Regions from separate parts of the Homo sapiens genome. Here region 1 is linked to region 2. Evidence: fine-mapped expression QTL. A gene starts in region 2. The other region holds a variant in brackets. All regions are shown on one strand. Distances are between the middles of the regions. Region 1 overlaps SLC12A8 (solute carrier family 12 member 8). Region 2 holds the start of HEG1 (heart development protein with EGF like domains 1).

What was found.
Region 1: its variant is fine-mapped to the expression of HEG1 in whole blood (INTERVAL, PIP above 0.99).

The regions. Positions count from the first base shown.
Region 1 is chr3:125,136,210-125,151,943 of GRCh38, forward strand. The region is part of intron 5 of SLC12A8 (solute carrier family 12 member 8); the gene reads right to left. It overlaps MIR5092 (microRNA 5092), which reads right to left and starts at 15,343; the gene lies at 15,256-15,343. RefSeq lists enhancers at 5,615-6,438, 6,052-6,141, 6,152-6,381, 6,952-7,905, 10,962-11,031 and 5 more and a silencer at 5,372-5,601. The variant C/A (reference allele first, on the strand shown) is at 7,815.
Region 2 is chr3:125,048,681-125,064,414 of GRCh38, forward strand. HEG1 (heart development protein with EGF like domains 1) reads right to left here and starts at 7,317. Exons shown (of 17, transcript NM_020733.2): 1 at 6,895-7,317. The coding sequence starts at 7,210. DAGARR (differentiation and growth arrest related lncRNA) reads left to right here and starts at 12,731. Exons shown (of 2, transcript XR_007096044.1): 1 at 12,731-12,843; 2 at 13,191-15,393. It also overlaps the pseudogene RNA5SP137. RefSeq lists enhancers at 3,158-3,287, 7,831-7,880 and silencers at 3,428-3,477, 6,811-6,970, 7,031-7,120, 7,201-7,580.

The DNA.
Region 1 (15,734 bases), 88 kb after region 2:
ATCAAAGCCTCCACAACCTGGCAACAGCCACCGCTCCCTACTCATCCCTTGCTTTTTCTCCTCCCCAGCAGCCACACCCTGAGGAAGGCCACCCACACCCACCCCCCTGCCTTCGTTAGGCAGTCTCCTGGCCTTCCAGACTCTTCTCCCACATCTCTAAGCATCGTAGTGGGCCAACTCTTCAAGCTCAGCCCAAATGGTGCTCCTTTGGGCTTTATAAGCACTCCCTAATCAGAATCTATTCCTCCCCCCTCACTGCTGTTGACGCTAGGTCTGGCCACAGTAGGACTTTCCCCAACTAAACTCCTTGAGGCATGAAATCCAGGTCTGCAGATCTCTATCCCCCAGAGCCAAGCACTGCACTGGTGCACAGTAGGTAGGTTGCAAATATGGGTCACGCTGAAAAGAACCTTTCTCTTAGATCTCTCAGCCTATGGACACATCTCGCTTCCACACTTTCAATTTGACTTGTTCACAGCCTACTTCATAGCAGGAACATCTCAGATCTCATTTCCTCAAAGCATTTTAAACATTTTTGTACATCGACTTTAACAAACTTTTTTCAAGTGGTTTCAACCCTGCAGGCACGTTGCTTCTTTGTCAAAGGAGGTCACTTTGAACAGCATCTGTGAACATGCTAGTGGGCTGTGGAATTTTAAGACACAAGTCAAGTGTTGTTGGTTTCAGGAACACCCAGGATATTCAGCCTCTGCTTCTGAATCTTGTCTCTGAGAAGGAGTTGGTTTGTTCCTATTAACTGTCGTCCAAGAGAAGCCAATCCCTGCTCCTTTTCCCTCAACCCCTGTAGTCCCGTAGGATGGGTATTCAGCTGTCACTCCATAGCCAACCCTAGGGTTTCAGGGACAGAATTTCCCCAAGCCTCATCCTCCACCCGCTCGGAGCTTAATTACAGCCCAAGCTTCCATCCACAAAAGAAGGCTCCTGCCACTCTGATGAGTCCAATGAGGTCGCCCGCACTTCACACAGCTTCCAAGATTCATAACTTCATAAGAAAAATATTTTTTTTAAAAAATAATGAAACGAAATCTCAGGGAAGCACAAGGGACCCTTGGGAGTCCAGTCAGGACTTAAATCATTGTCAATTGCTTTATTTTGCCTGAACACAGAATTTGTTCTGGCATATTCAATCCCAAGTGCTGTACAACTTTTCTGAATGGTTTGGCGTTTTTGTAGCTGGCCCTCCCCTCATTAACAAAAAAGCAATAATAGCTAAGTTAACTTTAGCTTATCCGCTGGCTGACCTCACTGATGAGTCTTAAGGAGGAGAAAACCAGCCCAGCCTGCCTTGGAACCGAGCTCAGCCAAGCTGGACTAATGTGCAGGTCGGAAAGCACATCTGAGCGGAGGGCTGTGTGTGCCCGGCAGGCCCGCCTCGCAGGACAGAAAACACTTCATCAGGCATATTCATCTCCAAGGGCCCAAGGGCGGCCCTGACACAGGGGAATATTTGGTCACTGGGCCTGAAGGGCTTTGCCCTGGCCAGCCTGAAGGTTCAGAGGGATTTCAGGCCCAATAGATGAGTCACTGGGAAGCCTTTTCTCTGCCCATCCCTTCAGCAAGACCCACAGGCTGAGATAATGAGTCACTTGGCTCCCTCGTGGGCCTGCCTCAGTTGCCATCTCTTGCAGGGCCAATGAGAAATGCAGCCCTGCCACATTCACAAAGTGCACACTCACGCTGACACACGCTCACGCTCACACGCTCACGCTCACACTCACGCTCACACTCACACGCTCACACTCACACTACTGCTGGCCCAGCCTGCTCTGGGCTGAAGCCAAGCTCAGTTCTGAATCTTGCTCTAGGAAATAGTCTTAACTTTGCAAAGAACGCTATGGACAAAAATATGTGTCAATGCTTTGTTTACAATAATGTAAAATCGGGGGAGGGGTCGGGTGCAGTGGCTCACGCCTGTAATCCCAGCACTTTGGGAGGCCGAGGCAGGTGGATCACTTGAGATTAGGAGTTTGAAACCAGCCTGGCCAAAAGGTGAAACCCCATCTCTACTAAAAATACAAAAATTAGCCGGCCGTGATGGGGTGTGCCTGTAGTCCCCGCTACTCTGGAGGCTGAGGCGAGAGGATTGCTTGAACCCAGGAGGCAGAGGTTGCAGTGAGCCAAGATTGCACCACTGCAGTCCAGCCTGGGCAACAGAGCAAGACTCCATCTCAATTTTTTAAAATTTAAAAATAAATAAAAAATGAAAAAATCAGAGGAGGTTCTAAATGTTTATGTGGAACTGAGACATTTTAAATGCTTATAAAGAGTTTTTAGTATAAGAGAAAACTGTCCATGTTATATATACTATATGCTAATTCAGAAAACTGGATGCCATAGTATAAATACAAAAAAAGGTGTATTAATCTATACATGTAAGAAACAGCTAGAAGAAAACACACCGAAATACTAACTGTGGTTGTTTGTATAATGCAATTACAGGCAATTCTTGTACTTTCTTTTTTTATTTCTACAAAACATCCACATTTAAGTTAAAGGGCTGAGTGCAGTGGCTCATGTCTGCAATCCCAGCACTTTGGGAGGCTGAGGTGGGAGGATTGCTTGAGCCCAGGTGTTTTAGACCAGCCTGGGCAACACAGAAAGACCCCTTCTACAAAACACACACACACACACACACACACACACACACACACACACACACTTAGCAGGGCATGGTACTAGCTACTCAAGAGGCTGGGGTGGAAGAATCACTTGAGCCCAGAAGGTCAAGGCTGCAGTCAGCTGTGACTATGCTACTGCACTCCAGTTTGGGTGACAAAATAATTTTTTTAAATGAACATAATCTACTTGTCATCAAAAAATATCTTTTAGGAAAACAAACAAAACATCCCACAATTGAAAGCCCACTTTCTCGTCAGCTTTTCTATGTATGAAGAGCTTTTCTTTCTTTCCGTTTGTACTCTGTTTCCCAAAATGACTTGAGTGGCTTATGAGAAAAACATAAACAAGACAGGAAAAATAAAATAAGGACCAAAGAAAGAAAGAAACTGAGCAAAAGAGAGAGAGGGTGAGAACACCCCCAGTCGTACCTCCATGACCCACAGTCTGAGGCCTTATTCAGAGAGAATTTTCTAACTCTTTGACCAAGCGCACTGAGGCAGGGCATTGGATCTGGTGGCCCATCCCTCACATGGGCCACTTTCCAGTGGACAACAAGGAGCCCCCAAAGCTGGCACAGTGGACCCTGCCTCATTTCCTCTGCCCCTATTTTCCCAGGCCCTCATGACTTGCACCCCTCACCTATCACCACCCCACCTCACGGTCCCCTGTCCTGAGCCAGTCCCCAAAGAGTCTTGCTCACTGGTCCCCATCCTGCCTGCTGGGGCCTGGGTCTCTTTCCCACACCCTGAACCTGGTGGCCCACCCAGACCTCAGGCATGGTTGACTCTCTGTTGGGCTTATGCAGAGTGGGTGCCCAGGGGAGGCACTCATGTCTCTGACTGGCCGGTACTGGCTAGCTAAGCATGGTGTGAGGTCAGTGGGTCACACCCAGGGTAGGGCTGAGGTCCATGCCGCCTGCCATGCCCTCCGACAGTGGCTCTTAATGCCTGACTTGCTGATGCCCAGAACAAAGGTTCCTAATTCTTTTAGTTGCCCCCATTTGAGAGTCTGATGAATACCATGGTCCCTGTCCCCATAGACACCACATTTTGCATACCATTTTGGGGAAGGGCAGATTTCTGAAGCCTCTCTGGAGAGCATGGACCTTAAGGTTCGAGACCTCTACTCTAGCAGCTACATCTGCACGTGAGATTGTCCCGCCAGGAGGCACCTACAACTTCCCAAGGCCTGACTGCCACCATGCCCTGCCTCAGAGTGGACAGCAGCCCTGAGAGTGACATAGCCAATAATGTCTTCATGCCACAGTCCTTGCCAAGCAATGGCCAAGACTGTGTGCACAGAGATTGTGCAGGTCACTCCAAGGACACCACAGGGCAACCTCACTTCTGAAAATAATGCTGAGCGACCAGTGACTGAACCCTTCCTACGTGCCAGCCACTGAACAACAAGACCTTACAATGTCATACTTGTACGATGACTAACTGAGGACACTGAGGCTCCGGAACGTGAAAAAGCTTGTCCGAGGGTTACATAGCCAGATCTGCCTGTATTTCACCCACTGCCTCTCCCGGTGGCAGAAGCCAGGCCTCTCTCCAGGAGGTGGGTTCCCAGGCCCTGGCACTGCACCCCCTTACAGCACAGGTTGCCTTTCAGCCCCAGGAAACATGCCCACAGAGATCATGGCATCTCCCCCGGCCCCATTTGTGTAGGGCAGACAGGAGTCCTATCCTGTGGAACACCATGTGCCTACCGGTATGCAACTGGCTGGAGCTTACACAGCTGGGAGGACACAGCCTGTCCTGGACCCCACATCTGAGTGAATTCAGGCCTCCATCTACCACACTGACCCTCTGTAATCCATCCCAAAGTCATTCCCCAGGAATTTCCTTTTTTTTTTTCTTTTCTTTCTTTCCTTTTTTTTCTTAAAGAGGCAGGGTCTCGCTCTATCACCGAGGCTGGAGTGCAGTGGCACTATCGTAGCTCACTGCAACCTCAAACTCCCAGCCTCGAGCAACCCTCCCACCTTGGCCTCCCAAAGCACTGGGATTACAGGCGTGAGCCACCACGTCTAGCCTCCCCAGGGATTTCCAACACTTGTTTTTTGACCTCAGAAGAGTCTCTTTGCCTCTCTGTTGGGCTTTCAATTCCTCTGCTGGTGAAACTGAGTCTTGTGGTCTGGGGTCCTGTCATCTGACATCTTTCAACTCTCGAAGGCCTGGGATGCATGGGGCCTGCAGCTGCTGCGTGTGAATGGATCTGGGTTTGACCTGAACATCTGTTTCTCTATCCACGGAATAAAAATACTTTGGTCCAGTTTGAGCTGTATGCTTTTAGGAAGAACAAAAACAAAAAGGGGGGTGGGGTGGGGTGCGGGTAAGACAGAGAACAAATGACAACAAGACCCAGGCAGGAACAGGCAGAGGGAAAGTCCTTGAAGCTCTGTCTGCAGAAAGGCTTGATCTTTCCACCCGGAATTCGGGTAATTCAGGCTTCTTGTGATGCGGCCAGTGGGCTGTGGCTCTTCAGGGCCCACCATCTGCTCCCAAGGGGTGCTCGTGGGAGCCTACCCTCCTCCCCTTAGCCAAAGGCAGGCAGCGGGGGTCACTAGTGGGACTGAGAACTGCTCCAGCAGGGCTGCTTGGGGTGCCCAGCAGCCGGGCATGGGACCCTTGCCCTGGGTAGGCGGCTGCTAGGGGCTCTGGGTGGCACCTGCGGTGCCCCCGACATCCCCTCCCCCTACGCCGCTGGGGGCTGCTGAAATTAGAAGAGGGAGTCGGGAAGTCATACCCCTCCCTGTGGGCGTCGGGTTGCACTGTTGACTAACTTAGAAAGCGAGATTTCTAAAAATGATGCTGGGGCTGCAGGCTGCGGGCTGCGGGCTGCGGGCTGCGGGCTGCTGCCGCGGCGGGGGCTTCCGGCGGCGCTCTCTTCTGGGTCCCCCACCCCTGGACCAGCGACCGACGACCAGCCAGACAGCCCTTTCCTGCGAATGGACAATGGGAGAGGCTGGCGCAACCGAGAATAGCCAGCGCGGAGGAAGGGCTCCGGACGGAGCTAGGAGGGTGGGGCTCGGAGGGCGCAGGAAGAGCGGCTCTGCGAGGAAAGGGAAAGGAGAGGCCGCTTCTGGGAAGGGACCCGCACGACGACGCCCGAAGGGCGTCGGGGGAAGTGGTAGGCCCCGGAGACTGCGCGAGGCTCCTCAGCAAAGGAAGTGGGCGCGGCGCGCACGCAAGACCTCGCACCCGGCCTCGCGCGCCGCCTCTGGACAGCCCAGCGCCTCTCAGCACCTGTACCTCGCCAGACGCGGCCTCACGGAGACGGGGATCTGCAGCCAATCCGAAACTGCCTGACCCAGGGGGTCCGCGGAAAGGGGAGGAAGGGGAGTGTCCACGGGCCCCATCCTGCCACTTGTCACCCACAAGAGTTCCTTCCCAAGCAGCCCCATCCTCGCCCGGACACTCACTCAGATACTGCCCAGCCCCAGATGGGCTAAGAGGCACAGAGATGGGCAATTAAACACAGCAGGCCTGGCCTCCCTGGGCTGGGGATGGGGTTTTTCTTCTGGGAGCTGCAAAGGGTGAAGCAGTTACAGGTTATCAGGGAGGAGCCCAGTCAAAACTGAACTCAAGGAGGATAGATTTGGGAGAAGTCCCTGCCATGCTTATCCTCCCTCGGCGTGAAGCACAGGGCCCCCTTCCAGGCACAAGGACCCTGAAGATCTCTGGGTGGAGGAAGGCAAGAACAGTGGCAAAATCAGGAATCAGGAACCAGGGTTCGGGCCCTGGTTATGCGAGGACTCACTGTGGGACTGTAAACAAGCCCTTTTCCCTCGGAGCTTTGAAACGCAAATTTTGAGTCAGCGAGACCGGCATGGGCCAGAGACCCAGCCTTCCTAATGAGCTCCCCGGAGATGCCACGCTCCTGCCTGCAGATCGAACTCTCAGTAGCACAGTACGAGATGATTTTTCAGAACCCTTCTAATTCTGAAGTCTTCCCAGCCAGAAGCCCACTCTCAGGCCTCTCAGGACACACTGTCCAAATACACAGTTGGTTTCCAATGGCAGAGGTAAAATCCCAAACCAGCTTCCATAACATGCCCTCCTCCCTTCCCTGACTCTGTGATTGTTGATACAGGATGTGCTCCAGAACCGTGAAACAAGCTCACTACCACAGTTCCATATGTTAATAAAACCTTACTGGCCGATAATGAGAGATTACATGGAAGGGCAGAGAGATGAGGAAACCTTCATGGTCTAATTCATTGGCCTGTTTTAACAACTGAGGAAACTGAAGTGCAGAGCTGAAGCCAACTGTTCAAAAGACACGCAGAGTCAAAAGGGGAACAGTAACCCTAATTGAGAGTACAGTTTGGAGTCCAGATAGTATCAAGTCCCAATCTGTTGGGCTCTCCCATTGAACTGGGTCATAACAATCCTGGTACAACTATTGGTGTTCAATAAAAGTGTTTTGAAATAGAACTGAATCGGCTGTATTGCGTTGGACTGTTTTGAAATTAAACTGAATCGGGCTGTATTGCTTTGTATTGATCACTGCCTGGAGATTTGGAAGAGGAAATAATGATAGGTTTCGAAGAGGCCCCCAAAGAGTCCTGGGCGTGAGCCTGGAGTCTTCCTCGGACCACAGTCTCCTCTCTGGCTTCAGCCCTATTGACTTTGGTCCTGCAAAGAGAGGGTGGAGAGAGGATGTGCACAGGGTTTCCAGCCTAAGACCCCACCCAGAGAGAAAATACACAGAGGGAGGGCTGGGCATTCCAACAGTGGCCAGAAGGGAAATCTGAAGTGGGGCTTGACCTGCCCAGAGGGCCAGGGGAGTCCCGCCCAGCCTGCCTAGAAAGGAGCAGCCTAGAGCCCTGCCTGGCCATGGGGAGAGCCTCCACCCTGTGGGAGGACTGGCTGTTGTGAAACAGTGGGAAGGACCCCCAGGGCTGGGCAACCCAGGGGATGAAAGGCCAGACTGGGGGATGTCAGGGCAGCCTCCCTGGCCTGGGAGGGAAGGGGCTGAAAGTGTCCCATAACAAGAGCAGCTCCTGCCATGCCCTGCGGTCTAGGAGGGCAGTCCCGGGGCTCTTTCTGAGCTAAGGATTCCTCATTTGTGAAAGGAAAGATAAGCCTTTTCTTCATGAAGAATGGTTTCTAATAACCAAGAAATTGTTCCATCTGCTAACACGGGCTCTATTTTAAATGCTTAATGAA[C/A]CTTTTCTCATAATGGCCTTGGGGTCAGTAAGCTGAGATGAGATTTTTGCCTAGAGAGGCCTACAGCGGAAAGAGCTGTCAAATGCCCAAGAATGTGAAAAGAATCTGACTTGAGGAGACACTAGGTTCTCACCTGGGCCCCAGGAAACAAGAGGCATCTTGGGGTGAGAACAGTGCTGTCTACTTCCGCTGCATACCACTCATTCCAAGTGCTTTACCGTATTAACTCATTGAAGCCTCACAACTACCCTATGAGGTAGATGGATTTTTTTCAGGGAAGGAAACTGAGGCACAGAGAGGCAACTGGGATTCAAACGTTGTGCTGCCACTGCTGCAGCAGTGCTTGTCCAAGGCTGCAGGGAGTCTTGGATGAGTGCCAGGAGCTCCAGCTGCTCCAGCTGGGACCCTGCAGAGGGGTCCAGAGGGACCTGGCCCCAGCCCAGCCCACAGAGCCCCCACTAGCCTACCCTAGAAAGGAGCCCTGAGAAAGGAAAATCTGGCCTCCTTATCTCCTGGGGGAAAGGAATGCACTCTCCCTCCTGCCAGGATAACGGGCTGTTTTAACGGGAAGTCTCCACCCTGGCTGTGGGTTCCTCCCAGCCACCACTTATTCCTTCTGGCTGTCTCTGCCTCTGGCATCCCACTTCCCATGCTTCAACTCCTGACCCCTGACACCCCCAAAATAATCCTAACTCAACTCATGGCCCCCTCAAATCAGCTGCCCCTGCACAGCTCCAAGCTGGTCAAGAAGTCTTCCCTGCCCCACTGTTGCTTGGATATCCTCGCCAGGCAGGCAGCTGAGACGGGGTGGGAGGTCAAGTGACCCCTGCAGGGAAGGGGCAGTCAGTATCAACACACCGATATGTAAGCAGAGCCCCCCTCCTGCCAAGCACCAGGCTGAAAATATTCACATGCTCAGACCCCTTCCCCACCAAGTTCTGAGGCCATGGGCAGCTCTCCCCCACCCCAAGTCCTACCCAAGAAACAAAGCAGGGCCTCCCTCAGAATGCCATGGCTAAAGATTCAGTATCATAGAACTGTAGAAAGTTAGCATCACAGCAGTCTTTAGCCTCAAATCCATTTTACAGATGGGAAAGCTGAGGCCTGAGAAAGGAGATGCCCACGTCACAAAGTTAGCAGCTGCTCAGGGGAGACCAGAACACAGTGTGGCCAAGCCCTTGTCCAATATGTCCTATGGGTCCCCATCTCTCTGCTGTTACTGGCTGGCTACTTGCCTGTTTTTTCCACTAGACTATGAGCCAGGTGGGGGCAGGCACCACGCTCTCTTATTTTCTGGGGTGTCTCTGGCACCTAGCCCCAGGGGACATGCAAAAAATATAAAACATTAATAATAACAAACAATGGAAACAACCCAAATGTCCATCCACAGATGAATGGATAAACAAAATGTGGTATATCGATACAATGGAATGTTATTCCACCATAAAAAGGAATGAATTTCTGATACATGCTACAACACAGATGAACTTTGAAGACCTCATGCTAAGTGAAAGAAGCCAGATGCAAAAGGACAAATGTTGTATAATTCCCCTTACAGTAGCTCCCCTTTATCCACAGGGCATCCTTTCCAAAACCCTCAGTGGAGGCCTGAAATGGCAGATAATACCAAACCCTATATATACTATGTTTTTTCCTATATATACATACCTGTGATCAAGTTTAACTTATAAATTAGGCTCAGTAAGAGACTAGCAACAATGACATAATAAAATACAATTATATTATAATAAAAGTTTTATGAATGTGGTCTCTCTCCCTCATCTCAAAATATCTTTTTTATTCTTTTCTTTCTTTCTTTTTTGAGACTGGGTCTTGCTCTGTCACCCCATCTGGAGTGCAGTGGCACGATCACGGCTCACTGCAGCCTCCACCTCCCACGGCTCAAGTGATCCTCCCACTTCAGCCTCCTGACTAGCTGAGACAACAGGCTGGCGCCACCATGCTCAGCTAATTTTTTATATTTTTTGTAGAGACAGGGTCTCACTTTGTTGCCCAGGCTGGTCTCAAGCCCCTGAGCAGAAGCAATTCTCCCACCTCAGCCTCCCAAAGTGCTGAGATTATAGGCATGAGCCACTGCGCCTGGCCCAAAATACCTTATTGTACTATACTATTTTTATCTATTTTTGGACCACTGTTGACCGTGGATAGCTGCAACTGCAGAAAACAAAACTGTAGATAAGGGGAACTACTGCCTATGAAATATCTAGAATAGGCAAATTCAGAGAGGCAGAAAGTATCATAGAACAGAAGTTAGTGGGGGCGGAGTTTCTGTTTGGGGTGATGACAAAGTTTTGGACGCAAATGGTTAGGATAATTGCACAACAGTGTGAATGTAACTAATGCCACCGAATTGTACAGTTAAAAACGGTTAAAATGGCAAAGTGTGTGCTATGGATATTTTACCACAATAAAAAACAAAACAAAACAAACAAACAAACAATCAAACAAAACCTCAAGCCATTTCTTTCCACAGCACCCTCCCCAGGGATCCTCAGAGATGGCACCCTGCATCCTTGCTTAAGGCCTGGGCTCCTCCCTGCCGTACAGATGTGGGAATAGAGGACAAAGGGGGCTTCCTGGCCAAGGATGGTGGAAGGTGAGGACAGAGCCACAGGCCCTGCCTACTAGTTGTGGCCTCCCTCGGAGTGCAGCGGCATGATCACGGCTCACTGCAGCCTCCACCTCCCATGGCTCAAGTGATCCTCCCACTTCAGCCTCCCGACTAGCTGGGACTACAGGCTGACGCCACCATGCCCAGCTAAGTTTGTACATTTTTTGTAGAGACAAGGTCTCTGTTTGTTGCCACAGGGAACACCTCTTCCCACCACAGGGAGGCCCTTCCTCCACGAGAAGCAGGGCGGGGAAGCTGCCCAGCAAGCCATCTGACCACCAGTCACCAATGTAGGCAGAAATCACTGTGTGCTCAGGGGTTTAGGTGGAAAGGACCGTTGTGCTCGGGAGTTTGCCGACGTCTGGAATCCTTGGGGTTTTACTCAAGGGCAAGGTGTGTGAGAATTTGCAGCAAAGCCGTCAAGAAACACAAAGTGCAGCGTCTCAATATCAAGCACGCCCAACTTCCAGGGAAGACTTCCGCAAAATCAAGGGCGCTGTTGTCCTAGTCCTAGGGTCAACACATGTTCTCATTTTCAAAACTTTCCTGGTCACTGGGACCCAAGGCCTGGGAGCAGCATTTAACCTGCGGTGCCACTAAATGAGAGCCGGCCTTGAGTGAGTGTGCCTTTAACCCGGGCTGCCCTGGGCTACTGCCATATCACCTGACCTTGCAGCTTCAGGCTGCACTCCGCTTCCCTTTGTGGGGCTGGCAGGGGCACTCTGCTCTCAGCCTTCTAGCTCTGAGAGGAGAAAACCAGAAGTGGCCCCTTCCTGTGCCTCTGTGTGTTCCTTTGCAAGCCGTTGTGTGCCTTTTCTGCAGGCGCTTATGGAGAGTGAGGTGTGTTTGTACCATCTCCCCGTCAGATTAGGAATCCTCAAGGTCAGAGACAAGTTCCCTCCTCCCTCCGGATCCCCTCCTCATCCGCAGGTGGCTGCAGTCACTGGGGTGCTGGATGAGTCCAGTGACCATACATCCTGCCCTACATCCTGCCTGGACAGCCTGGGAAGTGTTTTGATGACTGATCAACCCAGAGAGCACGAGGGGAGAGCAAGAGGAGGAGAAAGGATGCTGCTGCTCCTGACTGAACGTGATTGAGGTGCCCCAGGAAACTACCTTGCTATGCAAAGTATGGTCCCCAACCTGCGGCATTGGAACCTTCATTTTAACAAGATCCCCAGATCCTGAAGCACTGCCTTAGAGTATAACCCAGGGCCTCCAGGGACCTACTCTTCCAGGACAAGCAATGATAATGACAATGATTATTTATTGAGCACCTACTTTGTGCCAGGCATGACACTAGGCCTCTTATAAACATTATCTTATTTTATGCTTTGGCAACCTAGCGAGGCAGGCGTTATTACCTGCTTTTCAGAAACAAAGAGAGCAGGTCAGAGAGGTTAACTACCTTGACCAATTCTATGCAGCAAATTATAGCTGAGCTGGAGCTTGAACCTGGAGGTCTGACTCCAAAGCCATGTCTCTGACAACTGTAGTATATGTGATGCAATCTTTCACATTAGGCCAACAAGGACAGCCACTTGCCAACTCGCTATGGGGCCCAGAGATTTAAAGGCAAATGCAATCCCCAGGGAGATGTCTAGAGGCTGCCCCATTGCCTAGTGCTGGCCTGGGGTGTGGGCACCTATGTGTTGGGGTTAGGTCAACCCTGTGGCAGAGGCCTCAATATTTCTTCAAAACACGTCCCTGAAGATGAAGGTGCATGCCTCAGTCCCCAGGGAGCATGAAGATCCAGGCAAGAGGGACATGTAAGTTGGATTGCGAGCAGGCCTGGAAGCTCTAGCACTGGCCTTGTCTGGGCCCTGGAGTGAGGGTAGTGGGGAGAAGAGTGGGGTGGGGGGCCCACGTGGGTCCTTTGTATATTATTTAACTTTCAAATTTGCAATTTGGGGCATCATCTCCTGCCAGCCTCAGGAGGCGGCACTCTCCTGCCAGCTCCACCTCTGGGTTCACTCCCACCCCCAACCCTCGGCCAGCACTCACAGGCTGCTCGCACCACAGAGCCCACTCTCTGCATGCCCACTGTCAGCCCAGGACTTCCTGCCTTGTTCTCTGGGTCTGTAGCTGGCTGCCTTGCTCCCCACCCAAATGTGAGTGACTTGAGGGCACATATCCCACTTTGTGCTTTATACAGACCCACCATCCTGCCTCCTACCCCAGGAGGTACCCCCAAAATGGTGAAGCCAGAAGTGCCTTCAGGGACGCTTCTACAGTCACATGGAGAGTAATCTGCAAATTCCCCACAGCCAGGGGACACCTGCCACGTGCAGTGAGAGGAACACAAACCAGCAGCGGGGGGGCACAGGCAGGATGTGTCGGCCCACCCCTCAGCGGTCACCCATCGCTTCCTCGGAACTCCCAGCTGCTCAGGGCTGAGGCGGGCGAGGCTCAGAAGTGTGGAAGGGCCCTCCCCAGCTGGTGACTGCATGTGGCAGGCATCCATACCCGGAACGCCCAGCCAGGGAGTCGGGCCAGCCCATCCCTCCTGCTCACAGAGTCACAGAGTGGGAGCAGACTCGGGGGTCGAAGCTGGGCAGCGCTCGCTCGCACTTCCTTCTGCAAACTTGACCAGGTCCCACGGCCTCTTCAGCCCATGGCTCCTTTCTCTGATCCCCAAGCCAAAGCCAGCAAATGAGAATAATCCAGTAGAGACAGCTGGGTTTTGGGATCAGGGTAGGGGCTCAGAGCCAGGGGTCTGGGATTCTGGTCAGTCAGTTTTTCTTCATCAGAATCAATCTCAGAACAAGAGGGAGGCCTAAGGCATGCCTGCTGCTGGCCAGGGGTGATGGGGACCACTGCCCACAGAAAGCCTTCTAACAAGGGCTGGATCCAAACAATCAAGGAACAAGGATGCCTAAAGCATTAGTTTCTCATCTAGCCAGAGAAATATTAAATGTGCAACTCACATAATTTTACAAACAAGAACCACCAACATAAAATAAGTGGAATATTGAAAATATTCAACAGGTAGAACAAGTCAAAGAACATGCTTTGCTTCCTATTCAGGCCAGGAAGGGAGAGAAAGAGAAGAAATGGAAGGTGAGGAGGGATGGGGAGATGGCAAAGTGGGGGCAGAGGGGAAAAAGAGAGACAAAAGGATTGGGGAGAAAAAACAGAGAGAGAAAAGCATAAAGGAAGAAAGGATGAGGCACAAAGAAAAGAGGAGGGAGAGCAGGTGGATTTTGGGGAATGCTGGACAATTGGTCAGGCTTGGTCTGCAGAGGCTCAGAAATCCTTACCTGGACATGAGCCTTTGTTTATAATTCTTCACTGTTCTAACCCTGAAAAGTACCTCTGTTCTAATCCTTAATCTTTCCCCCTTCAGGTCAAGAATGCCTTTGAGAATCTGGCAGTAGTTCTGAACCCTGTCCTAGAAAAATACACTTATTTACATACAATTTTGCATGCAACTTCAGGGGCTCAAGGACTCTATGTTAAAAATACTTATTCTAGAAGCTCCACTCTGATTGGGAGACCCATAATGGCCAAAGCAAAAACACCTCAATTGCCAGATGAAACTAAAATGAGGGTGGGATGTGTTGTATTCAAGTCTTCACATTGAGCTTTAATCATACCATTGGCTTCAGTGACAGAATTTAGGGCCTAAGCACCTTCTCCTGGTTACTACCCCAACAGTCATATTGGAAGCAAGGCTGGTTACTCCAAGGGGTCCATTGTGTACATGGATGGTTATTTCGCAGTAAGGGGCCTGTCAAAGACAGGTAACAATGTGTGAGTCAAATTAACCCTTTACAGATCAATAGGATTAGTAAATCCCATATACGTAGTAGTTTCCAAATCTGAATGTACATAAGAATTTCCAGTATGCTTACCTAAAATGTAGATTACTAGTCCAAAATTTGAGAGTATGGATCAGACTGTTTTTCTAATGAGTTTCTAGATAATTCCGATACAGGAAATCTCCAAACCAAACGCTGAGACACACTGTTCTCAGAGAACATTGCAAGCCTGAGAGGCTGAGCTTCTGGTCCCACAGGTCAGCTGATTATCTACTCCTTGCAGTGCGATTCTTGTACACTAGGGGGTAGGACTGAGCACATATACAAGGGCACCGCAAGACGAGGTTTGGACTACTGCATCAAAAAGGCTACCTTTACAGGGGAAAATAGAATGAGCAATGCAGAACATGAAAGGTAGAGTGCCAGGAGAAACCTTCCAAGGGCCTCGAAGACAGTAGTTCCCAGAGCTGACTTAAAAATCATGATAAAAAACTACCTGGAGCACTTCTTACAATCCAGATTCCCGGGCCTCAGGCTATTAGGAAACGCGCTCACACACACACACCAAGTTTCCTCAGGGATTCTGATACACACGCAAGTATCACAACTTGTTTGTTTATGGCACTTCAAGCCCAAGGGTATTTTGATCACTATACCAGACCATTATCATAAAGACGCTTCGAAAAACTAAAGTGCCCTTATAATTCTAAAGCAAAAAACAGTGAACATTACCAGGGTTTTCTTCTTCTTTTCTCTTCCTCTTCCTCCCCCTCTTTCTTTTTCATTGAGGAGGCTAATTGGAGAAGGTGGGCCACGCTGGAATGCCCTGAATGGGTTCCAGATGGTGAAGTCATTGGCCTCTTGGCCCAACTGTTCCTCCCTTTTCCCTGGAGTGCTGTACAAATATTATCATTTTCTGGCTGTGCAGTGACATAAAAATGGTTGAGAGGCTCTAGGTCAGGTGTAAAAGAAACTCATGGAAAGGGAAGAACAGCTCGGTCCAAAAGAAATTGTGGAGATACTTTCCGATTCTCTGCAAGGTGGAGAATCCCAAATCAGATGCCAAGCTCAGCGTGGATTGGTTTGGGCTCATCATGTTGTCCAGTCCCCACTGGCTTTGGCATCTGATCTGGGATTGTGAGGGGGTGCGGTAGGTCTCAAGAGAAATGCTGAAGGGGCAGCCCTGCTTCCGGCTGCTTAGCAGAGTGGTGGCGACAGGGAAACCCAGGCACAGATTGCAGATCCTCCGCCCAGGGAGGATGACCACGATAACAAGACTGTCTTACGTTTATTTAGAATCTTCCTTTGCCAAGGCAATCGTATTTATAGTAGTTGCTCATTTTGAGTATAACTTTTTAAAAACATTTTGATTTTCTGAAATTTGGATGTCTTACAAGCAACATGAGGACTTAATGTAAGGCTTTTTTCCACCTGAAAATTTGGTGTGAATTAAAATTGATGGTGACTTGGAATTGAGGAAATACGTTTTATTACATCATTTAATCTCTAAATAATCTGTGAGGCAGA
Region 2 (15,734 bases):
TCTTTGAGGGTGTTAAGCCTCCGAGTAAGGTGACCTGAGTTACATTTTAAGAAGATCACTCTGGCTTCTGTGAGTACAGATTAGAGAGAGAGCATAAGTGGATGCAAACAACAGAAAAGAGCAGTGGGGAGGAAGAGAGCAGATTCACCATGTATTCTGGAAACAGGATCACCTGGAGTTGCCAAAAAAGAATCACGGTAGTGGGTGAGGAAAGGAGAGGAATGGAGGGTGACTTCTAGGCTTCTAGCTTAAGGAACTAGGTGCATGTTGTTGCTAACTGCCGACATGGGAAGAGGCAGGAGTTGACACAGGGTTAGGGGATGAGAATCAAGGATTCTGATTCTCTCTGATTTTCCTCTTTTATTTCACCATCAAACTTTGCCACAGACAGGCCTTCCATGCCTATCATACGGTAGGCAGGCTTCTTCCTGCACTTTTAGGAGTCCCACTAAACAGTTCAGAATGGAGGCCAGAGGCCTTTCCCCAGACCTCATTCTCCCCAGTCTCCCTCTGCCTTTTAACTTGGATAGTTTCCAGATGAGAGGACAAATCAAGACAGAAAGCAGAAATATGTTAACTTACATGGACCTTCACAGACCTCCACATATGATGCATAAACCATGCTATATTCAGATTATCTGCCAATCCACAGCCAACCTGCAAGCCACCCCCACCTCTCATTGCGCCCTCATGCCGGGCTGGCATCCCTTCCTCCCCACCATCCATACTGGATGTTCTCCACCTGACTGGAGCTGATTTCCTCTTCCTCCGTGGCTTTAACTACTGCCCCTCAGGGCTGAATCTGGCCCCGGCCTCCCTCTAGTTCAGTTCCACATTCTCAACCATCCACAGAATACTTCCAAGGGGACATGCAGTCTTTACACTGAACGGCTGAAACTGAAGGAGCCCCTTTAAAAGCAAAGAGCTCCTCTCCATTCTGTCCCATCATCCCCGTGGCCAGGCAGTCTACTACTCCAGCCTTACTCTTTTAAGTGGCCCTTGCATCTCTCCCTTTCAATTTCCACTACCTCCACTCTAACCCATGCTCTGTCCTCAGTCTTTCCTCCCAACACATCAATACGATGCCCACCAGCATTCCAGTGTCTCTTAAACAACTACGGGGCTGTAGTGAGGGCAGATATGTATGTGGTTCATCTATGAGGCCCCAGCTCCAAGCAGAAATGAACAAGCTAATTATGCTTTCCCTGTTCAGAAGCCATCAGGGGCTCCTTGGTGTGGATGGGATGAAAACAAACACCTTAACAGGCCTCTAAAGCCCTCCACAATCAGGTCTAATCCTCCTTTCCAGTCTTGTCTTCAATGACTAGTTGATTTGGGAGCCTAACTGGCCTCTTCAAGTCCTTTTCTCCAGCCTTACTGACTGTTGATCACCTCCCTTTTGAAAAGTCTTGGGCTTTTCAATATTTGGGATTTTGTGGATGCCATTCATCCACCAACTCTCTTTTTTTTTTTTTTTTTTTGAGATGAAGTCTCACTTTGTTGCCCAAGCTAGAGTGTAGTGGTGTACTCTCGGCTAACTGCAACCTCCGGCTCCCAGGTTCAAGCGATTCTCATGCCTCAGCCTCCTGAGTAGCTGGGATTACAGGCACATGCCACCATGCCCAGCTAATTTTTGTATTTTGAGTAGAGACAGGGTTTCACCATGTTGGCCAGGCTGGTCTGGAACTCCTGACCTCAAGTGATCCACCCGACTTGGCCTCCCAAAGTGCTGAGATTACAGGCGTGAGCCATCATGCCCAGCCCATCCTCCACCTCCCTGTCTATCCACATCCCAGTCAACTTTCAAAGTTAAATCAACTCCCCCCTTTCCCACTGAAGTCTCCCTGGACTATCCAGCCCCCAGTGGTCTCCACGTCTGCATGCAGCAGCCCATTTCCACCCTCACCATTCCTTTGGTCAGTATGATCTCCTGTGGCATTTCTTCAGTTGTGAATCACTCATGCATCGTTATTTCGCTTTTTACAATCTTGATGTGTGTGCTCCAACAAGACTGAATGTTCCCTGGGGGCATCACAGACAGGCACTGCAACCTCATCACCTCACACGGCTCTTCCACATAGCAAGGCTTCTGTAAATATATCTTGATTTACAAATCAGTCCAATGTGACACAAATAGAGGCATCTGCCACACTCCAACAAAAGAAGAGTGAAAAAACAGGATAGAAATGTCTTTGTTTCTGTCTATGCCTGATGAATGGTGAGTGGGTAGAAGAGAGCATAGATGTTCAAATGAAAGCAATTTGACAGCATCTGCATGGAGTACCATTTAACCTCGCCTCCTACTGGGCAGGTATTCATAACAACTGCCTCACAATGTCAGCCACTGCTCCACGTTCCCAGGAGAGGGCCCATTAAGAAAGTCACCAATTCATTTCAGCTTGGCTTATAATTAATGCAGCAACCTCTGGCATCAATAACCTATGGATTGGCATATGAGTAGGGCATAATTTACAATCTCTATATAAAATGTCATTTTAAAGACTTGTGGTCTTGTCTCAGGTAATTTCAAACAAAATTTTTAAAAAATTTTTACTCAATAGGTGTCCTCATTGCCACTGCCATCTCCTCATATTTTCCCCACGCCAATGCTGGCCCCTAATCTCTACAAAAAAGCAAGAGCAAGGAATGGAGGGAGGGAGGAAGACGAATGATGAGCAGGAGAGGATCTTAGAGATCTAGGACAACTGGTACCCCATTTTACAGATGAGAAAACTGAGACCTCCTGATATTGTGGGACAAGCACATGGATTTGGTCAAAATCTATTAAAATCCTGCCGCCTCCATTTACCGTGTGATCTAACCTCTCCAGGCTACTGTTTCCAGAACTGTAAAAGGCAAATAACATCCCTCACGGGCTTGTTTTGAGGATTAAATGGATAAGGAGTGTGAAGGCGCCGACCACACATACGTGTTCAAAGGCCAGGGAGTCAAAAGTCAGACCCCAAAACTAGTTTCCTTCCTTGTTGCCTCCCCAGGATTCTTGGAAGAGAATATTTACTGCAGCTGAAACCTCCCATTCATACAAAAAGGACGCTGGAGACAGAGGGAAGCCACTGAAGAAGGCAGTAAGTGGCTAACAAAACCACAACTGCCATCTGTTCTTTGCTTTCTTTCTGAGTGTCTCTGGACAAGGACAAGTTAAATTCAGGAACACTGTTTTCAGCCAGCTGGGCGGGGCTGCTGGAAGGCAGGAGGGATCACCAGGAGGGCAGAGGCTCCTTCCCCAGCCTCCAGGACAAGGATGCAGAAACTGCCCAGCTGGGCAGCAAATACCTTTCAGTCTCCCTCAGTCCACACCATTCGGGTCTCTGGCAAAACATAACAGTTCAGCATGTGCACACAGGCTGAGGAAAGCAATAAAAGGGTTCTTGCAAGGTAAAAAGGATGTGGCTTTTAAACACTCATGCACCACGGAGAGTCCCTTGCCCCCTCCCGCCTCCCCCCCTTCTATTTGGGACACCCTCCATCAAAGCAAACAGGCTTCTCAGGAATCCCCACTACCACCACCCCCAAGCCTCCGCCAGGAGTGAGGTAGCCGCCTTCTGGAGGGAAGCCACTCTCCCCTCCCTGAGGGGCTGTCTCTTGCCCGCTGCACCTTGTAATGGTTCTCCCAGCAGCCAAGCTAAATGACGAAGTTGGCCCACAAAGTTAGAGCAATTCAGGCGACAGCTATTTAACAGCTCAGACGGGGCTCAGCTCAAAGCGCTTCCTTTCCTCCAGGGAGCTGCATTTTTCTAAGATTATTGTTTCTCGGGCTGGCTGCTCAGCTACTCAGCGTCATTTCCCCTTTGGGTGGGAAAGTTCTTTCCTTCTGCATTGATTTTCATTATGATTTAAGCCTTCTCTCCCTCTCATCTGCAGATCTCACAATTAAAGCATAGCATATGGATCACAAAATTAAGGCATATAAACTTTGCATTCAGCTTAGAACTGTGGCTCGGAAGTCCTGAGTGGTAGAAAAACACACGCAGAAAAAGAAAACCTCTAGGTCTCAGCATCTTGTCACCACTGGCTGAAACACCAGCAATAAACATCAGCTGAACAGCCAGCAGGGTGACGGGTGGGTGCAAAAGCTTAACAATGGCTATATAAACAGGGAGCTGCTCTCCAGGGACTTACAGTCTAATACAGGCAAACAATCCACATAATGGAATGCAAACGCGGTTACTCAGCAGTGAGAAGTTGAACTCTGCCAGGAAGAGAAGAGCTGGAAATGGCCCACAGGGAAGAAAAGGACATCTGTGGCCCTTGCTGCTGACATCAGTGTATTTGGAAGTCCCAGGGGCCAGGCCCTGACTACCAGCATCCCCATGGCACGAAAGGCCTGCAGGAAGCTTCTCCAACAACCAAATGGAGCACGTTACTTGTAAGACTCAGGGCTTGTTAGTGACAGTAGCATGGTGCCTCCCCAAACACAAAAATGCTGAGGGAGAGCCGGGATGACCATCTGTCAGGGGTGCTGGAGGGGCAGACATTTGCATGGGACACATTGCAGACTGGAGGACCTGTGGAGGCCCTCTCAGCATTGAGACCTTGCTGCCTTGTGAAATGAGTGATAGCATCTAGTGATACAGGAGGACCCATCCAAAAGGCTCCCAATCCTGGTTATCAGAAAACTCAGACTCACTGAAATCACTGAACACTGGTTTTCTTATGTGTTGTTTCTTTTTTACCCCTAAATGATACTGTTTGAGCCACTACCAGAAAAAAAAGCACAGGTCATGCCTAGATCCTTGGCCATATGAGTAGCTTCTAGCAGCTTCAACAGGTGTTCATTTCATCTCTTCTAATCGCACCTTCCTAACATCCCTTCAGAGATTGGGCCTTTGAGCCACTGAAGAGGAGGCACTCCTTGGGTGGTGTCTGTGGGGCACCAGGAGACCAAGAGAACCTACCTAGGTAAGAGAAGGTGTACACTATTCCAACTACTCTCTCGCTGCTTTCTGGGATTCTCACATGTATTCCTTCCAGTACCTCATATACCTGAAGCCTCCATCACTCACCTCTGCAAAGGAATCAAACTGGGAAAGCCACAAAACCAAGACCAGCAGTGTTACCTGCCACACCTGTGAGGGATGTTTGGGTCACATAAGGCCCCAATTCTTACCAGCTGAGTCCTCTAAGCTAGCTGCCTCCACTGTCCCTACCTCTCTGTAATACCTGTAATACCTACCTCTCTCTAGAGATCCCGCCCCTAAGAGAAGGAAAGAGACTCATGTGCCTGCCCCATCCAGCCAGGGCCCCTGCAAGTCAGTGTCCCTCCCACCTATCCCCTAACAAGATGGAGGCCATTCAGCTAAGACAGCCTGACTACTACCCAGAGAAATCTGCCTTCGGCTCTTGGGTGTCTCCTCTGAAATGTTCTCAGTTCTCTGCAGTTCACCTTCTGTTTAGAAAAACTCACAAAATACTACACAGTGTTCCTCAGTTACTTTCCTAGTTGGAGAAAGTCGGGAAATATGTTGTTTTATGTTCTTGATTCCTTCCCGTGGAAGTTAGCAAAACAGCGTATGCTGTAAGTAATCTAAAGTCACAGTCACTCCGGGATGTGTCTCCTACACGTCTTCAGAAGCTTATCTCTCCTCTCCCTTTTCTTACTGTTCCTCGGTTTCTCAATCTTATGCCAGTGATTTAAAAATTCACAAAATAAGGCATTTTGCGATAATGGGAATACTGTTGAATATGAAATTGAGTTTTTACAGGAGAACTTGATTTTTAAAAATCCAAACTTTTTCTTATTTAACTCTAAGAAGCACCTCTAGGTTGGAGGAAGCAAGCTAATTCACGTGCCAGAAAGTCTGCATGAGATGAGAAACTTAAATGAATTGTCAATTATGCAGACAAAAAACTCAACTTTCAGGGAAACTCCAAATCAATGTCCAGTGTTGCAAGCAACCCAGCTTATTTGAATAGCCCGGACAGAGCATATGCCCTGTGTCACTCACAGGAAGGCAAAGGCTAACACCACCACGTTGCTGACTTTGTTCAAAGCACTTTCCATTTATTTTTACTTTCATTTTGTCACATCATCACTAGGAGGCTAGAAGGAACAGGGATCATCACTTTCATTTCACAGATGGAGAAAGTGAGCGCAAAGAGACAGCAGTCCCAAGGTCATAATGGTATTATGGTTAGAATTCCACTCAGTATGTGGCATATTTTTCCAGATCATAAGAAAGAACTGGACACAAAGGTAGCAGGGAGAAGAGGTCAGTTCCTTCTCTCTGCGTGGGACAGGCGGTGGCTACCACGGAGCAACAGTTCATTGGGAAAGGAAAGGGGAGGGAGGAGGCTCAGGGATGGTCCTGTATCAGCCTGTGCCTTGCAGGGGTTCAACCATGCAACCCCAACCGCGTTCCTTTGCTTTTAAGTCGAACCAGTAGAGCGTTTTGTTTCAAACTACGTACATCCTTTGTCCTTTACAATATCCCGTCCTAGAACCCCTTAAAAATCAGTTATTTAGATGAGAAAGTCGAGCCCTGTACCTGGAGAGGCCAGTTCTGTATAGCGGAAAAAATGAAACTGGGGACCGGCTGGCCAGATATCGGAGGTGGGAGAGATGCTTTGCAGTCTTTTTCCCTTTCCTTTCCATTTTTTTTAAAGTGGGGTGGAAGAGATACAGGGTACCCCATAGGAAATAAGTTTTCTTCCAAAGGGTTGGAGGAGAACGGGATAGTCACACCCCTCAGTCCAGCCAACTGCGAAAGCGTCCCTCCCTACCCGCCGACCCTCAGGGTCCCGCACACGCCGGGCGAGGAGCCCCCACCCTGGGTCGCGCCGCGCGGAGGGGCCTACGGCTGGGGATGCAGCCCGGGGCGCGCCCACGCCCCCAGCACAGACTGGCCAGGCGCCAGGTTCCCGGCTCTCACTCACCCGCGCTCCCGCCTCTGGGGGCCCGGCCGGAGGGTCCCCGCTGTGTCGCGGCGCCTGGCTCAGGGGCCCTGTAGCTGGGGCCGGGGGTCGCGGGCCCGCGGCGCTCCCGGGGCGGCGTGGGCGGCGGCTCGCGCTCCGGGCGGCGCTCCAGCTGCAGCTCCAGCCCCGCTCCCGCGAGGGGCGCCAGGCTCAGCGCGCGGCGAGCCGGGGAAGGCGGCGGGTCCCGCGTCCCGGGGGCCGCCGGCGGCAGCAGCAGCAGCGGCAGCAACAGCAGCAGGAGCGGCGGCGGCCACCGCGAGGCGCGCGGCGAGGCCATGGTGACGGCGCCCGCCCGCGCTCACATGCCCGGCGCGCGGGGCGAGGGCAGCGGGCAGCGGGCAGCGGGCGGCGGGGGCCGCGCGGGGCCGGGGAAGTGAGCGGAGTGAGGCTGCGAGCGCGCTCCCCGCCTCAAAAGTTATCGGGAGCCGCGGGAGGGCTGCCGGGGGCCGGGCTGGCTGGGCGGAGGCGGCCCGCGGCGCCGCTACATGCTAATTAGCCCGGGCGGGTCGCTGGCTGGCGGGCGGCTCCTCCTCAGTTGACATCACCGGCCCCGCGCGGCGGGCCCGGAGGCGGGGAGAGGGCAGGAAGGGGGCTGGGGCCGGGCGCCTGGAGAGCGGCCCGGCCCGGGACAGCGGGATGAGGTCAGCGGAGCCACGGTGCTGCAACTTTTGTCACACACATGCTCCAGAGTCTTCTGAATCGGGCACCACCTACCCAACTCCTTAAACGCACAAGAAGTAGGTGAAAAGCAGGTCCTGGGTAATGTGATTAGCACCAGACTAGATTATCCCAAGTGCTTTGATAGGAGAGAGAAAGGGAACGGTCCCCTGGTACCCAGCCCGCGCTGTCACCGCCGTTATTGATTTGAAGTGTCCCCACTCCCACCCCCACCTCCCCTTCTTCAGGCCCCAGGGCTGGTGATGAGCTCGTGTTTGCCAAACCTAACACCTCACCCTCCGGCCAACGCGAGAATCCGAGTATCCCCCACGCCCTCTCAAGCTTGGATGCCGTTCCCATCCGACCACTGCCTTTGGCTCACACCAGAGTTCTGCAGAGATGTCACCGCGAGGACACCCAAACAGGCTGCAGGGAAAAGAAAACTGTGAATTCAGGCAGGCTAGGGCAAACTCATCATCAGGAAAAGAACTGCAGATCGCAAATTAAACCAAATGATGCCCAGAGAACACAGAATTTTAAATGGAAACCTATGGGGAAAGATTCAAAGATTTCATGTAAACAAATTTTCTTGGTCAATAAAGTTCCATTTGTTTCCATAACCTCTCCCTCCCCAGTAAATGAATAATAAACTGTCTAAAGTTTAGGACTGTAAGCCACCTCATTAAGTGAAGAAAGAGGGGCTCAAATGGGAAAATAACTTGCTCAAGATTCTGAAGGTAGACCCGAAGACGAAATGATTGATCTGTGAATGACCATGTGATATTATTAATTCTGGTCTCCTAATTCAGAGTTTGCAATAATTCGCAAACGGAAACAAATAGTATTGCAACAGAAACAAATGTTGCAGCTCCTTGGGGTTCTTGCGAGTTCTGTTGGGGGCCCCTGTCTGACAACCAAATGCTCGTGAAAATATGAGTATGCACCTCACTGTCAGGCCTGGCTCTCCATCCTATTTCTCTGCTCTTCTCTTTTTCTCTGTCTCCAGATCTCCATGACCCACCTCCAGGAGAATGAGATCGTAGTGTCCAGGGCAGCTGCAGATGGGCCTAGGCCCACTTTCTGGTGACTCAGTACAAGTGAGTCATTTGGCAGAAAAACATAAAGGAGGCTGTGTATAAACAAACTCACCTTAAATGAGAGAATGAGGAGTAAAGATTTGGTTTTATTTTGTTTTGTTTTTAAACAAACCAGCTTTCCAGGGCTCTAACACAGAACTTCCAGGTCTCTCCAAGAAAGTACCAAACAGTAATCTCCCTGAAACTGACTTGGTTTGCTCCCATGGCCTGAGCTTAACTTCTCTGGATGCTGCTCTCACATTAACAGGCAGGACTGCACAGCTGCCCAGACCCAGCCAGACAAGCCCCAACAGACTAGGACTGTGCTCAGAGGTTCTGGTCACTGCCACTCCCTCCCCTCCAAGGAGACCATGTCACATAGTACTGGTTGCACTCCCAGGCAAGTGGAAAGGTTTAAGGGTAGAATGGCCCTTACAGGCTTCTCGTGTGGATTCAGGGATCCTATGAGATAATCTGCCTTCTCTACTAAGACCCAAGGAGTAAACATGTACCTGCCACCTCCCCCCAATCCTCCCCCACCCCCCAATCCCACCCCACTTTAAGTACCACAGGTTTATCTCTCTCTAATCTTCTCTCTGCCTTCTAAGAGAAATGACCGAGTTCAGGGTAACTGTCAGCTAGAAAGGGCTTAACAAGCAGATTAGGAGAGGGACACACAGGGAGAACTTGGAAAGATTGATCAAGGTGTAGATGGATTTCAGCTCTTTTTCTTCTCCTCCTAAGGCAGAACAAGAGAAAACAGCAAGACAGCAAGAGAGAACTGGATGCAGTATAGAACCTTGGAAAGAACAGTTGACTTGGTCCTAGAGCCCTTGCTTCTTTTCTGGCCTTTACCACTGTTTAATTGTGTGATTGGGCCATAGTTTCCAATCTCTAAAACAAAGATGGTCCTGGATGATTGCTAAGGAGTGTTCTAGCTCTGATGTTTTAGAGTTCAGTAAAGAACTTCTGGCACAGTAGCAAGGAGGTATGAAATAGGTATCTCCCATCCAAGTACTAACCAGACTCAAGCCTGCTTAGTTTCTGAGATCAGAAAATATCAGGCACTTTTAGGGTGGTACAGCCATAGACTAAAACAGTTATCTAAGAACATTTGTAGTGTTTTCTTCCCAGGGATATGAAAATCCAGACAAGATTCTTGATCATCTCAGATAGCTTGAGAGGTCCTATCTGGAGCCAGGGTCATAAATCAGACGACTTCTCAGACCCATTCCAGCCCTGGGAATCTGTTGATCTAGGATAAAACAGGTGGGAAGACAGCCCAGAACAAATTCCAGGACTGAGTGAGTTAACAGGCATTCCTAACCTCTCCACAGGTAGGAGTGGGGGCACCCCAATGTAATTGACAGTGAAATCAGCAGGGAGCCCAGTGTCTTTGCCACCTGAAACTTGATGTAGTCAGAGCTTTCGCCAGGGGTTTCCTGCCTCTACTTGTGTTAATCAGACTAGGCTAGGCTATAGTAACAAATAGGCCACCCAGATGCAGCAGCTTAGCACCATGTGTTTCATTCTTGTTACCTTAACAGCCTTAGACACCGATGTTCAGCTCAGTAGGCTGTGTGAAGAAGCTGTCCATTGAGCTGAACATCAGTGTCTAAGGCTGTTAAAGGAACAAGAATCCACATTATGCATCCACGTTATGGTGGTTCTGCCATACTCTAGTATGGCTTCCAAAGTTGCTCTGGGAATTGGCATCCCAGTCAGCCAGAGGTGAAAAGAATGTGGTGGTGTGAGCAGAGGAGGTTTTGGTGGGCCCGGTCTGGAAGTGCCTCATCTCCTCTTACATTCCACTGGAGAGAGCATGGTCACATGGCTCACCCAACTGCACAGGGGGCTGGGAAATGTAGTCTAACCATACAGGCAAAGAAGGGGAGAAGGGATTTGGGTAGACCGCTAACCATCTCTGCCCTACCTCTAGATATCAGTAGGGCAGGGAAAGAAAGGGAGAGTAAAAAGATTCATCTTTTGGTCTCAGTTTCCTTCTTTATGAGGGTGTTGAATCAAATGATCTCTCAAGGCCCATCTAATCTAACATTCAGTGGTGTGAAGGGGCCATGAAATGTCCTTCCACACCAAAGTGAACAAACTGTGCAGGTTCCTGCCACAGCAGACCTGCAGCTTGAGGAGGCCTCCTCTGCTGATTGGTCTGACTGGTAGACTTGACAGAGAGGACCTTGGGTTCTCTCTAAGTTCTGTTCCAAAGCGATTCTCATTTCTTGGCCAAGTCAGGTGATCTCTATTGATCTGTCTCCTTAGCTGCCTAGCGGGGAGAAAAATCATTTCCCTCTGCTGCCTCTTGGGGTTGTCCTGAGGATATGATGAGATCACTGACCAGAAGGCACCAGGAACTCTTCTGACTAAAGTGCTCTGCATGATGCCCTTATTGTAGCCAGAGCCTTTTATAACACTGCATTCTAACCTGGCCCCACGGTGTGCCCAGTTCCTGAGGATGGTGCCTGTGCAGGATTTCACGTGGGTTGGCATTGCCATGGCTGGGATGCAGTGCCAGATGCACAGCAGTAATATCCTACGGACACTCAGGACTCTGGTGACTACGGGTCCCTGAGGGCTGACAGATCAGTTAATAGACCCCTGGATTGAGTTTCACCTAGGGACAGGTAGGCTGGGCCCACAGATCACTGTCTCCACTGGGGCATCTGGCCGGCTTCTCTGTTATCTGCTCATCACCCTATTAAACCCTGAGTCTGTTTACTCATCCTCTCATCTGCTTGTCCCCTCCCACTCTCAATCTACAAGGTGCTTTCTGGGATGCTCTGTGCTTTATTCATCTTTATATCCTCAAAATCCAACATAAGACTTTCTTTTATTTAGTCATTCAACAAATATTTACTGAGTGACTACACTGTGCCCAGCACTGTGCTGAGTGCTGGGCAAGTCTGTGACATCGTAGAGCTTAAGGGTTTGGAGGAGACAGACAGTAATTAAGAGTATAAATGTAAACTTGTCATGTGTAAGTGCTCGAAGGAGAGCACTCAGGAGGGTGTGCTGGGTTTCCCTGTGGACATGAAATTGAGCCCTGATCCGAAAGCTGTGTAGGCTGTTAACCAGGCGAAGCAGAGTGGGGAGAGTATATGCAAAGCACCTGAGGCAGGAGGAAGTGGGATGCATGGAAAGGACTGGAAGAGAGCCATTGTGGCTGAGGTAGAGAGTGAGGAAGAGCATGGAAGGAGGTAAGCCTGGAGACTTTGATAGGAACTAAATCAGGGAGACCTAACAGCTCATTTTAAGGATTTTTTATTTATTTTAAGAGTTTAAGGAAGTCATTATAAAGTGTTAAGTAGAGAAGGTAGAGTACAGTGAAGGTGGAGGAGGAGGAGGAGGAGTTAAGGGGCGAGGGGTGACATGATTTGGGATTGGAAATCATCATTCTAACTATAATAAGAGGAATAATTTAGAAAGAAACAAGAACTCATGCCCGGACTCTTGGAGTCCAGGTGGGAAGTGATAATTCTTGGATAAGAGTAATAGAAGTGAATTCAGAGGAGAATATGGATGTGAGAGATTGCAGTAGGTAAAATCCACCAGACATGTTGATGGACATGGAGGATGAGGGAGAGAGAGAGAGTGGCAAGGTTTCTCAGGTTTCTGGTTTGCATGGGTTGGATGGATGGTGGTACCATTCACAAGGAGAGGGAACGGTGGACAAGAACTATTTGAATCTGCAGACTTGGAACTGAAGGGAGAGGTCCAAGTTTAAGGTTTGGAGTACAAGGGGATGGAATTAAGTAGGGAAGAGAGTATCATAGTCAGAGAAGACAGGCTGAAAATGAGTCCTGGGGGACACAACATGAAATGGCTGGGAGAGGAGGCTGAGCCAGAAAAAAGACTGGAAAGGAGCCACTGAGAGATAGGAGAAAACCCAGGAGAAGGTTACATCACCCCAGCAAAGGGAAGGAGATCCTGGCTCACAGTGTGCAATCCTGCCGAAAGGTCAAGTGAGGTGAAGACTGAAAATAGCCATTCGTTTTAGCAACATAGAAGTCACTGGTGATCATAACAAAAGTGACTTCAGAGGAGTGTTCAGAGCAGAATCCACATGGAGAACAGTGGGAGGAGCGAGAGCTGAGGAAGCCGAGCTGGTGGAGATAACTTTTCAAGAGAGTTTGGCTCTGAAGGGGGAGAGTGAGCTGGGACAGTAAGTACAGGGGAATGAGTAGAGGGGAGTTCTTGTTTTTAGGGGGAACATTTGGACGTGAAAATGGTCTGTGTGGGAGGGAGAAAGTCAAAGGTGATGGGATAAGGTTTCTGAGAAGCAGGAGGGGATGGACTCCGTAGCCCAGGTGGACAGACTGGCCTGGGAGGAGGAAAAGAGGAGAGCGTGGGGCACTGCAGGGCCTGGACTTCCCTCTGGGGACTTCAGTTTTCTTGGTAAAGTAGGGGACTTGACTTGTAAGAGAGGCTACTTGCTGTGAGTGGAGGGAATGTAGGGGCGGGCCTGAGGGATTTGAAATTTTGAGAAACACCAATGTATTCTTTTCCTAGAGCTGCTGTAACAAAGTCCCACAAACTGGGTGGCCTAAAACAACAGAAATGTATCCTGTCACTGTTGTGGAGGCTGGAATTCTGAAATCAAGATGTCAGCGGAACCATGCTCCCTCTGAAGGCTCCAGGAGAGAGCTCTTCCTTGCCTCTTCCTAGCTTTGGCGGTGGTTGGCAATGCTTGCTGTTCCTTGGCTTGTAGCCCCTGCCTCAATCATCATGTGGTCTTCTTCCCACTGTGTGTGTCTGTCTTCACATGGTCTTCTTAGAAAGACGCTGTTACTGGATTTAGGACCCCTTATAATCCAGTCTGATCTTATTTTATTCACATCTGCAAAGACGCTATTTTCAAATAAGGTCACATTCACAGATACCAGAAGTTAGGGCTTGAACATATCTTTTGGGGAGACATAATTCTATCCATTATCATTAAGACATTTAGAAATGGTTGTAGAGAGGGAGAGAAATGTCCGAGCATGCCCAGCGCTGTCACGGGCCCATGGGGACTGGTGAAGATAAACCAATAGTGAGAGTATGCTGCGGCATCAGCTGCTCTCCCACTTGCTCCTCTCTGCTGACCGGCATCCTTGGGCAGAGCTGGGGCACCCCAGCCCTCTCCTGCTGCAGGGCAGGTTTCCCTCCCACAAGAACAGAACCTTGTGACCTCTCTTGACTCTTCCTCCCTTCCTGCCTCAGCCTCCATCTCTGCCTCCCATTCAGTCCCTTTCTCTGCCCCAAGGTACATGAAGAACTCTTGAAGACAGGAGCTGCAGAGCTGGCCCCACAGCACCAGAGATGTCACAGAAGAGCAGAATTCCAGCCCTCCATGGCACATGGGCTACATCTGCACTATTTTGTTCAGAGCTCCAAGAAGCAGGTGCATTGGGATTTTCACCAAAGAACGAAAGGAATAAACCCATCTCCCTATTTTTAACCCCCCAGAAGAAGCCTTATTCTCTCCTTTCTGGAATGTCAGGACCAGTGTCATTTTGTCCAGGCTGCATTGACCTCTTTGCTGGACCCCGGGCATAGGGAGCCCTTGCTGCTTCTCCACCCACCAGTGCTGAGCTCCGGGGGTGTTTGCCTTGCAGGTCCAAGGTGAGAATGTAAACACTGCAATTCCTCTGAAAACTGGCTGGAACCTCCTCCAGGGAGGAAGGGTTGCTCATGGGCTGGCCAGGCTCCCAAACATCATACACAGCAACCCGGAGCTCCAACTTAACACAGCTTGGGGCAGGTCCTCAAATGACCTTCCGTTTCTTGTCTGCCCATCTGAGAGGACCATTCCATTCCAAACAACATTCCTTTGATAAAAGTGGTTACACACTGTAAACATCAATGAGCCAGGAACATTCTCCGGTGCAACAGGATTCTGATAAAGCAGTCCTATTTTGCAAAACCTTCCAGTGTGAAACATCCTCCCCACAGCAAGCAGGGAAATTCCTGGGATGCCACAACATTGGGCAGAGTGTCCAGGGCCCCAGGGAAGGAGCAGAAAGTCTAGAGGTGGAGCTCCCATTGTGGGCAGAGGGACCTGAGTTTTCAATCATCTGTTCATCAGTCACTCACTCAACAAATATTTGCTGAACATGTCCCAAGCGCCAGGCTCTGATGGAGTCACTGGAAATGCAGTGTTTCCACATGACTGCAAAGCTCCCCTGACTTTCAAAAAGCAGCAATGATTTCCTCTCCCCACACAGTCCAGGTTGACAGTCGGGTGCAATATCCACACGCCTCTCTACCTCACTCCCTCTGTGAGTCTGGATGTGTTCTTCTTCCTCTCCAGCCCCCTGGGCCCTCATTCTGTTGGCTTTTCTGCTGTCACTCTCTGTTCGCAGGTATCTCTTCTTGAGTCTGTTTCTGGGTCTCTCAGTCTCTATTCTTCAAGTCTCCCTTTGTGTCACCAAGTGCTTCCCAGCCTAGCCACTCCTCTACCTCTCCATCAGTCTGCCTTACTTCCAATCAATTCATCCCCATTTTTTTCTCCTTCCCTCTTCTGTTTCTTCTCCTTAAGTGACTGTTGATACAGAACTAGATACATTTTTCTTAGGTTGGTGGAATAGACTTTCACATTCTCTGGTGTTTAGTTCTAAAATTGATTGAAAAATGTTTGTATTCTTTAGTGTTGTCTGAATTTCTTATAAGAGTATGTGTAATTCTTTAAAACTGTTTATTAAAATACGATGCCTATATTAGTCCATTTTCATCCTGCTGTGAAGAAGTTCATGAGACTGGGTAATTTATAAAGAAAAAGAGGTTTAATGAACTCACCGTTCCACATGGCTAGGGAGGCCTCACATTCATGGCAGAAGGCAAAGGAGAAGCAAAGTCACATCTTACATGGCCGCAGGCAAGAGAGTGTGTGCAGGCGAACTGCCCTTTATAAAACCATCAGCTCTCGTGAGACTTACTCACTATCATGAGAACAGCATGGAAAAACCCACCCCCATGATTCAATTACCTCCCACCAGGTCCCTCCCATGACACATGGGGATTATGAGAGCTACCATTCAAGAAGAGATTTGGGTGGGGACAAAGCCAAACCAT